2 linked regions of the Homo sapiens genome follow. The protein of the gene in region 2 interacts with the protein of the main gene of each other region in a biochemical or structural test. Each region holds a gene or a part of one and is shown on either strand. Other genes may lie near its edges.

Evidence for each region. The genes of interacting proteins can lie anywhere in the genome.
Region 1: the proteins of NFYA (region 2) and ELF1 form a complex in vitro, tested with the Homo sapiens proteins (one study listed by BioGRID).

Annotation. Positions count from the first base shown.
Region 1 is NC_000013.11:41,009,288-41,016,316, forward strand, and holds part of ELF1 (ETS-related transcription factor Elf-1), read right to left. Parts: intron 5,139-7,029; exon of another isoform or gene 4,872-5,138; intron 3,908-4,871; exon of another isoform or gene 3,791-3,907; intron 1-3,790.
Region 2 is NC_000006.12:41,082,956-41,089,984, reverse strand, and holds part of NFYA (nuclear transcription factor Y subunit alpha), read right to left. Parts: intron 5,940-7,029; coding exon 5,793-5,939; intron 407-5,792; coding exon 275-406; intron 1-274. UniProt on the Homo sapiens protein: Component of the sequence-specific heterotrimeric transcription factor (NF-Y) which specifically recognizes a 5'-CCAAT-3' box motif found in the promoters of its target genes.

The DNA.
Region 1 (7,029 bases), on a different chromosome or scaffold from region 2:
AAAAAAAGTATAAGGTTTGAGAACTGCTACACAATCACAACGAACGATTCAAATATCCTTACAACTGAATCTTTGGTCCCATCCTTAAATTTTCTTTAGGATACCTACACCAAGAACTGAAAGGCACATAGACTTTCAAAGCATTTGATATCATAATGCCAACTGCCCTGCAGAAGATTTTTTCAGTTTATACTGTTAGCAACAGAATACCTGCATGGACATTTAACATCATTTGCAACAACCCACAATGCTTGAACTACTGCCAATATGATGGATAAAAACACAGGGGGGCTATTTGACTTTAATTTGCATTCCTTTGCTAGAAAGTTTAATATATTTTAATTTTAAATGTAATACTTTAATATACTTCCCAATTTTAAAGAATTGGTTATTCTTCGTGGAAAGGGCTAGGAGACACAAGTAAATAAATGGTAAAGGTGACAGTCTATGATTTTTCTCATTGGGAAAAAAAACTTCGAATTAATGTTTTTACTCTAGTTCTGGTTTAGAAAGCTTGCATTTTTTTAAACTTCAATTTAATAATGTAAAACTCTAAGAATGATATTTAAATTACTAGTTGCAATAGTGCAGCAGTTCTCAAACTTTTTGGTGTCAAGATCCCTTTATATTCTTAAAATGTATTGAGGACCACAAAGAGCCTTTGTTTTCCTAGGTCATATTTATCAATATATGTTTTTTACTTACAGGATATTATTACTTATTATATGCCCTTTAAAGGAGTCTTTTCTCAGAATAGCATATTGAAAAAAAAAAAAACTCCCTGGGATTTTTTTTTTCCTTGATTAAAAATAATGCTGTTAAATATACATGCTTTGGGCCAAGCATGGTGGCTCATGCCTGTAATCCCAATATTTTGGGAGGCCAAGATAAGAGGATCGATTGAGCCCAGGAGTTTAAGACCAGCCTGGACAACATAGCCAGACCGCATACCCACCAATAAAAAAATAAAATAAAAAAGAAAGAAAGAAAGGAAAAAAAAAAAAAACACAGAAAAGAAATTTGCACGTCATAGTGGTATGCACTTGTAATTCTACATGGGAGGCTGAGGTGGAGGATTGCTTGAGCCCAGGAGTTTGAGGCTGCAGCAAGCTATGATTGTACCACTGTACTCTAGCCTAGGCGAGAGGGCTACACCCCTATCTCCCCCCCACCCCCCCAAAAAAATACATATAGGTATGAGGTGTATGTGTGTGTGTGTGTGTGCACACTTTCCTTGCCTTAGATCACATGTAGCACATCGAAAACTAATCTAGTTTATCTATGTTTCTCTAATCTTTATATAATTATAATACATTTTAAATGGAGGTTAATTAGTAAAATATATGCATATAATTTATGAATAGTTTTTATTTTTTGTTCATTGCTATATCCCAACATCAAGAATAATATGTAACAGGCAATAATTGCTGAATGAATCAATAATAATATAGATCAAAAGGTATATAATAAAAATTTAAGAGACCTCTAATTACATGACTTTATAGGAACCCTCAGACAATGAAATCTTATGACTTCTATTTCCATTTGTTCTTTGTCCATGCCACTGCTTATACATACACTATGGGAAGTATTTCAGGAAAGAGAGCCAAGGGATGATGAAAGTAAAAACCTGGGTTAAGATCTATGTTTTCACTTTCTATAGCAGTTTCCACATTTACATTGTTAAATTTTGAAAGCTTTACCTGAAGAATGTATATCTAGTTTATAATGACAACAACAAAAATCACTAAAGATTCAGAAATTGCTACCATTACAGTAAGAATTCTAAGGAAGCTACATGAAACACTGATCAGGAAGCAAGATGAAACACTGAATATACCAGTAAATCTGGTTAGATTCAACAATCTATTAGCTACTTAAAAGTTCATGGATGTTAATACTATACTAATTATTTTATGAATGTTTTTGTTTTGAAATGTGTTTTTGAGAAGTATTTGAATGTGGGATAATTCTGAAGATGAAACCTAACTAAATTACTTCTAGGTAACTAAAGCTCCAATTTGTTAATGGATCTCAACTGGAAATTACTATTTATTCATCTAGAAGTATGCCTAGATCTTCTTAGTTATTTGGGACAGACACACAGTCTTATAACACTTACATCTGAATCTACCCAATCCCTCTTGCTGAAATAGGCAGTTAACTTTTTTTTTGAGACAAGGTCTTACTTTGTTGCCCAGGTTGGAGTATAGTGGCACGAACATGCCTCAGTGAAGCCTTGACCTCCTGGGCTCAAGTGATCCTCCCACCTCAGCTCCCCAAGTGGCTGGGACTACAGTCACTCACCATCATGCCTGGCTTATTTTTGTATTTTTAGTAGAGAAGGGGTTTCATCGTATTTTGCAGGCTGGTCTCAAACTCCTGGGCCCAAGTGATCCACCTGCCTTGGCCTCCCAAAGTGCTGGGATTACAGGCTTGAGCCACCGTGCCTGATCCCATTTTTAACTGATGCAGAGTTTTCATTTTTTTGAAATAGGAGGGTCTCACTATGTTGCCCAGGTCTCAAACTCCTGGGGTCATGCATTCCTTCAACCTCAAGTTCCCAAGTGGCTGGGACTACAGGTGCATCTCAGTGCCCCTGGCTCTGATGCAAAGTTTATTGCCACATTCTTTCAAGTCAGCTTTTACTACCGGTCAAATTAAACATTATTCCTCAAGATACTTATAAATGTGGGGCAAAAATAAACTATAGCTTACAGATAAAAATGTATTATGAGGCCAGGTGCAGTAGCTCCCACCTGTAATCCCAGGACTTTGGGAGGCTAAGGTAGGCGGATCACTTCAGGTCAGGAATTCAAGACCAGCCTGGCCAACATGGCAAAACCTCATCTCTACTAAAAAAATACAAAGATAAATTAGCTAGGCGCCATGGTGGGCACCTGTAATCTCAGCTACTTCGGAGGCCGAGGCAGCAGAATCACTTGAACCCAGGAGCCAGAGGTTGCAGAGAGCCGAGATTGTGCCACTCCACTCCAGCCTGAGCGACAGAGCAAGACTCTGTCTCAAAAAAAAAAAAAAAAAAAAAAAAGAGTATTATGAAACAGTTAAACCAAAGAGGATTCATCTATCTACCACCTAGCTTTATATTTTACCATAGTTTGTTTGTTTTTGTTTTTCTGTTTTGTTTTTAAGAAAAAAAGGTCATCTACAGTTAAAGCTTCCTCTAATATCCCTCTCCAGTCTCATTTTATTCCTTCTTTGACTATTCTAAGTTTGATTTTTTTTTCTTTTCTTTTCTTTTTTTTTTTTTTTAAGAGACAGATTCTTGTTTTGTCACTCAGGCTGAAGTGCAGTGGTGCAATCATATTTCACTGTAGCATTAACTCCTGGGCTCAAGCAATCCTCCTGCCTCAGCTTCTCGAGTAGCTGGAGCTACAGGAGTGTGACACCACACCTGGCTAACTTAAAAAAAAATTTTTTTTTTCTACTTGTAGAGACAGGGTCTTGCTATGTTGCCCAGGCTGGTCTCGAATTTCTGGCCTCAAGTGATCCTCCCACTTAGGCTTTCCAAAGTGCTCAAATTATAGGCATAAGCTACAGTGCCCACTTGTCAACTATTCTAAAATTGGTATCTTCTCTGTTATATATTTTTATAACTTTACTACATATATATCAAGATAGTAGGATTGCTTTTATATGCATAATTGGGAACATGTATTTATTAAAATTTATTTTTTATTCAAAATTATGTTTGAAATAACTCTAGTTAACAAATGACAAGCATACTGAATTGTTTCAGGGGTCAAATATATTGTTGTCTACAGCTTACCCTGAAATGCATCAACTGTCCATCTGTTTAGGGTCCTGGAGGATTTTACACCCCAGGGCAATATACCATAGAAAGATTCTGAATGGGTTAGAAGTCATCATCGGCAGATATCTGATCCTAGGAAAGATAATGAAGAACTCTAAATTACATTAAACTATCTATACTCTGCAAAGCCTTCACATCCCTCAATGTGAAGATACTGCTCTACAGAACTTCTACATTTATGTCCCGGGGAACCATGTACAAGTGTTCCCAAGCTCAAAATAATCTAATGCCATCAACAAGAGAGAATAAATACATTCTGGTACAGACAAACAATGGAATACTATATTGCAACGAAAAGTAACATAAGTCACAAAGCTGAATGAAAGAAGCAAAGTCACTACAGAATATATGGTGTGATTCATGTGTATAAAGTTCAAAGAGGTAAAACTATAAAGAAAAGATTATCGCAAAAGTCAGCATAGTAGTTATTTTTTAAAGGAAACAAACATGAATAGGAGTGGGGGCCTTCTAGGGTAATAGACATACTCTATATTTCTTAACATGGGTTGTTTCTCAAGATACTTATAAATATGAGGCAAAACTGTTTAAATAAAATACAAAATATTTACCCATGTTGTAACACTTTATAATTTTATTTAAACTCTATGTTTTATATATATTTTCCTACATGCACATTTCATTTTTAAAGAAAAAATAATGAATTGCCCCATTACAATACTAAACTTCCATTTAGTATTTTGATATAAAAAATAAGATGTACATAAATTGTTACACTTCATTTTAATAGTTTTATTATAAAATTTTATAGTTTTACTATTTATGGGATTGTTTTCTAAACCCAGAAACTAATTTTCTTTAATTATATTTATATTTTTAAAATTGTACCATGTAACAGCCCAGACATAATGATCACTATATGACTGGGCATCTATCACGTAGATACTGCAGCATGTAAAGTCATACTGGTGCCTGCTACTTTGAAGAGCTTCTAATATATAGAGTAGAACACAGGACGAGGACAAATCACATGAAAACACAAACTTAAAAAATAAAAACAACTTCTCTAAGTGGTTACCTTTGGACAGCAGGACTGAGAGTCAGAAGGGGCAGAGGAGGCAGGCTCCTTTTCATTATAGACCTATGAATTAAATTTTGAATGGTGTGCATATATCACTTTGATAGCTTTTAATATAAAAATTGTTAAACCAATCTTCATACAAACTATAGAAGGCAAGAGGGCTCTGACAATGAGGATGATGTTAATACCTGGAAGAGAAGGAATCAAAACATTTCTGCATAGAAATTTGTATATCCAAAGCTCAGCTGCATAATTTCTCCCTCTCTGTCAACAAAGCAAATAGCACACAATGAGTTATTTTCCTCATATAATAACTTAAGGTGCTTAGAACCATGACCAGAAAAGACATTTGTAGTACTGCTCAACAGCCACTTTTATTATAGTATACAGCTCATTTGACAAGACACAAAAAACTCTTTTGTAGGTTCTCCATACTAATGGAAGGAAGATTGTTCAGATAGTTGGAAACTGTCCTAATCATTGGAGTTGACTCAATAATGGTACTAACTTAATTTCAACCATTTATATGAAGCAGCTCCTAAGTAAAGGAGCAAAATAGTCTGGCTAATTTATGGAAGCAATGATTATCTTCAAACAATTCAAATGAGGGGAATTTTCTTCTCATTTATCCAAGTCAGTGAATACCTAACAATGTCCCATTAGATGAGATGTAATGTTAGGCAAAACCTACAAATATGCAATCAAAGATGCAGTTAAATATCTGAAGAAGCTTCAAAAATCATATCCAAGCATTACAGGGTTAAAAAAAAAGTTACTTCCTCCCAGACTCAAACAAGTACATACTATTGTGCTAGTCTTTAAGTCACCCCTGCCCTCCCCCCAAAAAAAGAAAGAAAACAAAAATATTACAAATAATAATAGTGTATTTCTCAAGAGAGAAGAGCTTTCAAAAGGCTGTAAATGCCACCCTAAATCAGTAAGGGGGTGTTTTTCCTAAAGCCCCAGGAGTAAGAGTATGGAGAGGGAAACCAAGAAGCAACAATTGGAACCAAAACAACTAACACTGGAAGAGTTCACTGAGAAATAAAAAATAGGTTAATTACATTAAAAAACAAAGATTATTTATTATGGCCAATATGGCAGTAGGTTTCGGGGGTGGATCAGAGAAAAGGAAAGACGGATAGCCACATAGTTGAACAACATATAGCACAGCAAAAAAAAACAGACTAGAGAAAGGGATAACTGGGATGGGAAAGGAGCCCAAATGGGTTCTAATACTGATAATAAAGTACTCTAGTTGCTTTCCTTCCTTACTAGAGGCTATGGGCTTCAAAATAGCATTGCTGCCTAAAACTTCAAATATTTAAAGGCAAAATAGCTAATTCCTCTTCATAGCCTTAAACCTGTAAACTCTCTTTCTGAAAATGTGGCATATAAGCACCTATGTCATAATCATTTAGGGTACACAGTAAAAAATGCTGATTGTTTAAGCAAATCCTACGCCTAATGAATCAGAATTTCTGAGTTAAAACTGGGTGATTCTTTGTTACACCAAAGGTTGACAATTACAGCTTTAAAGGTAATACTATCATAGTATTACCTACAACATGCAGACACCAGTCAGAGATTAAGCTGAGGGCCACATGCTTTTTAAAGATGTGCCATCTTTAACTTCAGCAAGATGGCCAACTGAATTTGTCACGTAAGATGGCAAAAAAGAGTAGCCAAAGGTTTAATACAACAAATAATACCTGTCTACTCATATGTGCTTGGTACTTTGTCAAAGGTTGAAAAAGACAGAAAAACAGAATAAAACCTTTCTCCTCTCAAACAGCGTATATTCTTATTCTTATTGACGAAGACACTCTTCTTAACATAGGTAAATGCTATTCAACGTTCAGCATTCATCATTCCTTCAAGATAAACTCTCCTGAGTATTCTTTCAGTCATCTTTTATCTCTAGGCAATCTGAATCTGAATTTACCTAGTCAGTGGTTGGTTCTGTTCTTTACTTCACTTGTTAACAAGCCCTGTTTTCCCAACAGGAATTTAAGTTTATGAAGATAAAGCCCATGTTCCTAGCCTTTTGTGCTTTTTGTTTTTTAGGACAATGATGGCCACACTGTGGACGATTTCGCACCGAATTGAGTTAGGGCACTCAGAAATTTAGGAGATTCAGCAGTTATGCATAAAC
Region 2 (7,029 bases):
CATGCGCCACCATGCCCACCTAATTTTTGTATTTTGACGGGGCTTCACCATGTTGGCCAGGATGTTCTTGATCTCTTGACCTTGTGATCAGCTTGCCTCGGCCTCTCAAAGTGCTGGGATTACAGGCATGAGCCACCGCGCCCGGCCAAAAATATATTTTTTTATGGTTTTCATCCCCTTTTCTACTATACATGCTATACATGAAATATCTGACTCAGTTATCTGACTCTTCCAAATCAGTTTTGCTCCTGTGTGACAGAGCTAGTGGAATTACCTGAGTCTGGCCAGCAGTGACAGCCGTCTGGGGCTGCTGGATGATGATCTGCTGGGTCTGGCCCTGCTGGCCCTGCACCTGCACAGCCTGTCCACCCTGGATCTGGATCTGTCCAGGTGGGACCAACTGTATCTGCAGAAAAGAACATAAAAAAAGGATTGTACTCTACTGACACTGGTCTCCTTTGGTCCCCGAGAGTTATCCACATTTCTCTAGAAAGCAGAAAATGTTCTGAAGAGGAAAAAAGAAGTCCTGCTCTGCCCTCCATTATGAAGTAGACACAACTTATTTTCCATTTATGAAACAAATAGGGAATTTCGACACTGTCTGGATACCTGATATTAACAAATCAATGTCGGTTTTTATGAAAGATAGCAGTGGTATGATTATATATATTGAAAAGCATGCATATTTAAAATACACTCTGGGCTGGGTGTGGTGGCTCACGCCTGTAATCCTTGCACTTTGGAAGGCCGAGGTGGGTGGATCACTTGAGGTCAGGAGTTCGAGACCAGCCTGGCCAACATGATGAAACCCTGTCTCTACTAAAAATACAAAGATTAGCCGGGCATGGTGGTGCATGCCTGTAATCCCAGCTACTTGGGAGACTGAGGCCGGAAAATCACTTGAACCGGAGGCGGAGGTTGCAGTGAGCCGAGATCACGCCACTGCACTCCAGCCTGGGCGACAGAGCGAGATTCCGTCTCAAAAAAATAAAAAAATAAAATACACTCTAAAGTGCTTTATTATTATTTTTTAATCTTGCCATTTTGGTGAATGATGAAGTACTTTTTTACAGAGGAAATACTATATATATTAAAAATGCTGAAAGCCGGGTACAATGGCTTATGCCCATAATCCCAGCACTTCAGGAGGCTGAGGCGAGCAGATTAGGTCAGGAGTTCGAGACCAGCCTGGGCAACATGGCAAAACCCTGTATCTACTGAAAAATACAAAAATTATCCAGGCATGGTAGGACATGCCTGTGGTCCCAGCTACTTGGGGAACTGAGGTGGGAGGATCATTTGAGCCTGGGAGGCAGAGGTTGCAGTGAGCCAAGATCCGCACCACTGCATTCCAGCCTAGGCAACAGAGCGAGTAACTGTCTCAAAAAAACAAACAAAGAAAAAACCCAAAATGTATTCTACTCTAGTCAAATGTGACTGCAGCCCAGGACAACACCTTGATAAGGGCCTTGAGAGGACCTTGAAAGAATCCAACACAGCTGTGTCAGGATTCCTAACTCACAGAAACTATAAAATAAATTTTTTTTTTTTTTTTTTTTTTGGAGACGGAGTGTCGCTCTGTGGCTCAGGCTGGAGTGCAGTGGTGTGATCTTGGCTCACTGCAAGCTCCGCCTCCTGGGTTCATGCCATTCTCCTGCCTCAGCCTCCCGAGTAGCTGGGACTACAGGCGTCCGCCATCACGCCTGGCTTAATTTTTTTTTTGTCTTTTTAGTAGAGACGGGGTTTCACTGTGTTAACCAGGATGGTCTCGATCTCCTGACCTTGTGATCCACCCGCCTCGGCCACCCAAAGTGCTGGGATTACAGGTGTGGGCCACCGCACCGGCCAAATGTTTGTTGTTTTAAGCTGCTAACTTCTAGGATAATTTGTTATATGGTAATAGATAATTAAGGCAATGTGACAGATTATATTCCTCCTATTAGTTTCCAATTACCAATACTCACTACTGTCATTAATGTTTGTCAAATTTTTGTTGATTTAATTTGTATCTCCTATTTGGTCCTAGGATTGGATAGCTAAACCTTATAAAGCAATTATGGAAAGCAAGGGATCGTGTGCTATCCAAATCTATCTTCTTTCTTTTTTTTAATGGCTATAGCCACTTTATTAGGAGTGTTATCAGAAACCTGACAAGAAGCTTGAAAAATATTTCTCTAAATTTTGGAACTAAAAAACTGCAATACAACCCTTTAAATGTTGGGTGTACAAAATCCTATTTTCATATAACTAGTGAACACTTTTTTTTTTAAGTGCAAAAGAGAAAGCAGTGAGGAGAGCCCCATAGCTCAAAATGTCTTGTATTTTATATTCAAGAATACCTCCCAAACTTAAAAGCCAGAATACATGGCTAGTACTAAGTAACCTTCTCTTTGCTTCTTTGACCATTAATTCCATCAACAAACTTTTTTTATTTGAGCATTGCTTCAACATAGATGGCAGTCTGGAAGGAGGATACTTTCAGAAAGATAGATTTTTATAGCCAGGTCACTTTCCATCCATAATTTCAACTTGGGACCACCTTGGTCTGGAAAGAAGAACATGCCTAGAACCTTAAGTTATCACAAAGTCTACCAGCTGATAGGAAAAAGGACTACTGATGGAAGGAAGGTGAAAAAAACAGGTCAATGGGTTCCATGTCTTAGAGACATTCATGGATCCTACTTTGTTAGGGGATAGATTGCCTAGGTCTTCTGAATTATTTTTTCCAAATACTCAGCTCATAATTGGCATTCAGAAAGTATTGGCAAATAAATAAGTAAACAAATTTATCTGGTTATGTGAACCAACTTCATTTCTAAGTTTATATTGGCTGTTAGGATTTCCTCTTCCATCTATTCATATTCTTCGCCCATTTTCCTATTTTTGTATAAATACATAAACGTTATTTATACATATTCTGAATACAAACTCGGTTGTATGTATTAAAAATATCTTTTCCAAGTTTTCACCTTGTTTACTTTTATTTGATGTATTTCAATGCATATTATGTTTTAGTCAATTTGTTTTTAAAAATATCCTTCTCTATAGCATAAAAATTCTTATATTTTCTTTTGAATTTTCCAAGTTTACTTTTCTACATTTAGATCTTTAATCCACCTAGCAAATATTTTTTAAAATACAGTATGAATTAGAAATCAGTTTCTTTTCTGTATCATTCTTCAGCCATTTCTTCATTGATATGTTTATACCACTTTTATTATATGCCAACTTCCAATATTCTTCTATCTATTTCTTGGCTGTCTCTCTGGTTCCAGTATCTTTCTCAGGCCAAGGATTTTAATCTAAAATTATATGCAGAATTTTTCATGAGACTGGACATCTCTACTTTTTCTTAGAGGGTGCAAGCTTTACTAGGATTCTAAAATAGAGAATACAATTCAAAAAAGGTTAAGAAGTAGTCTTCTTTAAAAAATGGCTACTCAACACTAATGAGAAAAAAAACTCCTATACAAAGGGGATTAAAGCCTTAAGTATTGTAAGGGAGGCTATGGAATCTCACCTAGAGAGCTTTATTTACGTAACAGAATATATTTTTTTCAGCTTGGTTAGTTATAGCCCTACTTGGAAGCAGGGAAATAACTATTTGAAGGTTCCTTATAGCAAAATAAAACCCCATAAAAATCACAGAATTTAGAGCTAGAATGAACCCTAGATATCATCTCATATAAATTTTATTTTTGGATGAGCAAACCGACAATTAAATAACTTGGCCAAGATCAGAATGCTTATTTAATGGCAGACCTGGTAATGAAAGCTTGGACCACTACACTCACAGTATACTGTTCCTAACTATACCACATTGTCTCTACTCAACAGTGGAGAAGGCGCAGCAAGGGGGACTGGAGAGGAAGCAAAGAGAGAAGAACAGAAAGGATATAGCAATAGGGAATCAAGGAAAGCACATGCTGAAAAGATATTTAAAGCCTCATATATTTATGCAAAGAGAAATGTGAAAACTATTTTTAATCCCAAGTACAATTCTATCTTGGCAAAAATATGCCAGTGGGCTCAAATATACTCTTACCCTTTACCCAAGCAATCCCCAATCCAAAGAAATTATCCTGAGAATTCAGTTGAAAAATAAAACTATCGTGCCCAAATGTTTACCTACAAAGGCAAATGAAAACCAAAATCCTTAACTATATTTTATAAATTAGAAATTCTGATTCATCAAGTTGACTGAACATTATGAAAGAATTAAAAAAAAAAAATGAAAACACAACCCCACATGCATGGTACAATTATGCCCAAAAATTATGCATAAAAACACAAAAGAATACACAAAAAGTACAAGTTTGATTTATGAGCAGTGGGATCATGGCTGCTTTTTTCAACTTAAATTCCTCCAGAAAACTAAGACATTAATATGACTGCTGTAACTGTTGAAACAATATAAACATTTAGATAGAGTAACTAATAGTTATCTCATACTCTCTTTTCCATGACTATAAACATATACTCATGGGGGGTTGGTTATGAATTACAAAGATGAGATCACACACTATTTCTCTGCAAATTATTTCCACTAAAAATATTTCAATATTAACCCACCCCAAGTCAACAGTTCATTTCTTTTAATGATGATGCAATATTCCCTATGAATATATTATGATTTATTCCAACCATTTCCTTATTCTTATTAATGGACACTCAGATTGCAATTTTATTTTTTGCTAGTACAATGCTATGAAAAGTGTCTTTGTAATTTCCCCCTACTATTGATGCTTTTCTTCCTATAGGACAGATTCTCAGAAGTGGGACTGCTAGCTCAAATATTCATTGTATTTAACAGATAGTGAGGTGCCTTTCCAAAATAACTCTACAGTTTTAAATTACCAAAAATAATGATTAATTCTTTTTCTCCACATCCATCCTAACAGTGGATATAATGACTTTTTGTTTTTTTTTGCCATCTCGATGAGAAATATCTAATTTTAAAATATGATGCCACAGAGTTGTATGTAACATTTCTACATATTTCTGTTAATCTCTTCTTTTTTTTTGAGACAGAATCTTGCTCTGGTGCCCAGCCTGGAGTGCAGTGGCACAATCTTGGCTTACTGCAACCTCCGCCTCCTGGGTTCAAGATATCTTATGCCTCAACCCCCCAAGTAGCTGGGATTACAGGTGCGTGCCACCACGCCCGGCTAATTTTTTATTTTTAGTAGAGATGGGGTTTTGTCATGTTGGCCAGGCTGGTCTTGAACTCCTGGCCTCAAGTGATCCACCTGCCTTGGCCTCCCCAAGTGCTGGGATCACAGGCATGAGCCACTGCGCCTGGCCTTCCTTTAATCTCTTCTACATCTTTGCTTACTTTTGTTTTCTGTTTCTCAATCAGTGTTTCAACTGGATTTACCTGTTTTATTGGTCTGCTTAAACAATCTAGATTTTATTTATCCTTTCTATACGTCAGTTTTCTACTTAATTAATTTGGACCCACTTTTTGCTCGTTTTGTTATTTTTCTAACTTTCTAAATACTCATTTTTGTTTCTTTTAAAATAAAATATACTATAAACTAGATTCTAACCTCTTCATATACTTTACAGCAATTCAAGATCATGCCTAATATCTTAGTCATTACTGGAGCTGTCCAATTTCTGCATAGTTCTAGTTTATATCACTGGTACTATAAAGGCAGAAAATCAACTGAATGCAAAATGTGGGTTAGGAAGCAGTTAAATGCAATATCAATTATCAAATAGGTTGTAATAATCTATTCTTTGAAACCTCTCCTCTGATATACTGCTCAATATTTTTAAATATTACTCACTTGCTGCAAACCCTGTGTTCCAGAAACAGGTACTTGCATGATGGTTTGACCTTGTCCACCAGGGACAGCCTGGACCATGATGGGTTGGCCAGTTGATGTGATTAGCTGGCCTCCACTGACCTGCACCATTAATGGCTGCCCTTGGACCTAGAATGAAATAAAATAAGAACAATGAAATAACATAAGACACAAAATGGTTTTTACCAAAAGACAATCACTGGAACTATTCTGCTGCCTTGCTAGAAAAGGAAAAGGTAGAAAAGACTAAGAAAATATATGTCTCAAGTCCTCAAGTTATCTTTAAATATCTATGAATCCTGTTACTAAATGCCAAGCTCAATACTTTAAGGTCAGACATAATGGAGAATATCCAGAGTCTTTGAGAAGTCTCAATAGATATAAGGCATTTGTCACCAAACACGGGCTAAATCCATGACAAACATTTAATCATAATGGCAAGGTTAGTTGCCTGTTTAAACCAATCCAGGAATGGTCTGTAGTGAAGGCTGGAGAGAAGGCAATGAGAGGGAAAGGTGATGGTGGTGATGGTGGTTGAGTACAAATTCTAAATAAAGTGAAGAAGGTAAATCAAACTGTACCCAGCAATGACTCTAGGAGGCTGGGTAGCAAGCAGCTCTGGAAGCTTATGTAGAGGATGACCCTTTTTTCCCTACAGTCTCTCAAGCTAAAATGAAATGTCAAATGTATACCTTTATCCTGCTCATTTTACTCTGTGAATTCTAGATATGTTTGTTGTTTAAACTCACTACTAAAGATTTCTTAAAAGCACTTTCTGGTCAGTTTGCAGTCTCCATGGTGGAATTCCTCACTGGCCTCTATAATATCCACATGGTTATTTTAGCTTTATCAGAAGCAACAACAAATATTGAAATTACACAGAGCAGTCAAGTGTACAAATTTCAAGCTCCTATGAGTAAACAGACTACTGTAGGAGCCAGGTCACTACAAGTGCTCTGTCACATCTTAAGTCCCAATACAAAAATACCTAATAGAATGCTTTCTGGAAGCACTTTAAAAGTGCTTTAGAAGTAAACTGTAATGATCCATGGAATAGTCCAAAATTTTCATTTTCAGACTCTATCTTTGACAGAAATTACTTAGAACAGAATATTCATGACTGAAATATTCACACTTAATGAAAGTATGTGCAAGTAACAGCAATTAGTTAACAGATCATTCTGTCCTAGATGAGTAGGTTAGATAGTAAGGTCCTCCT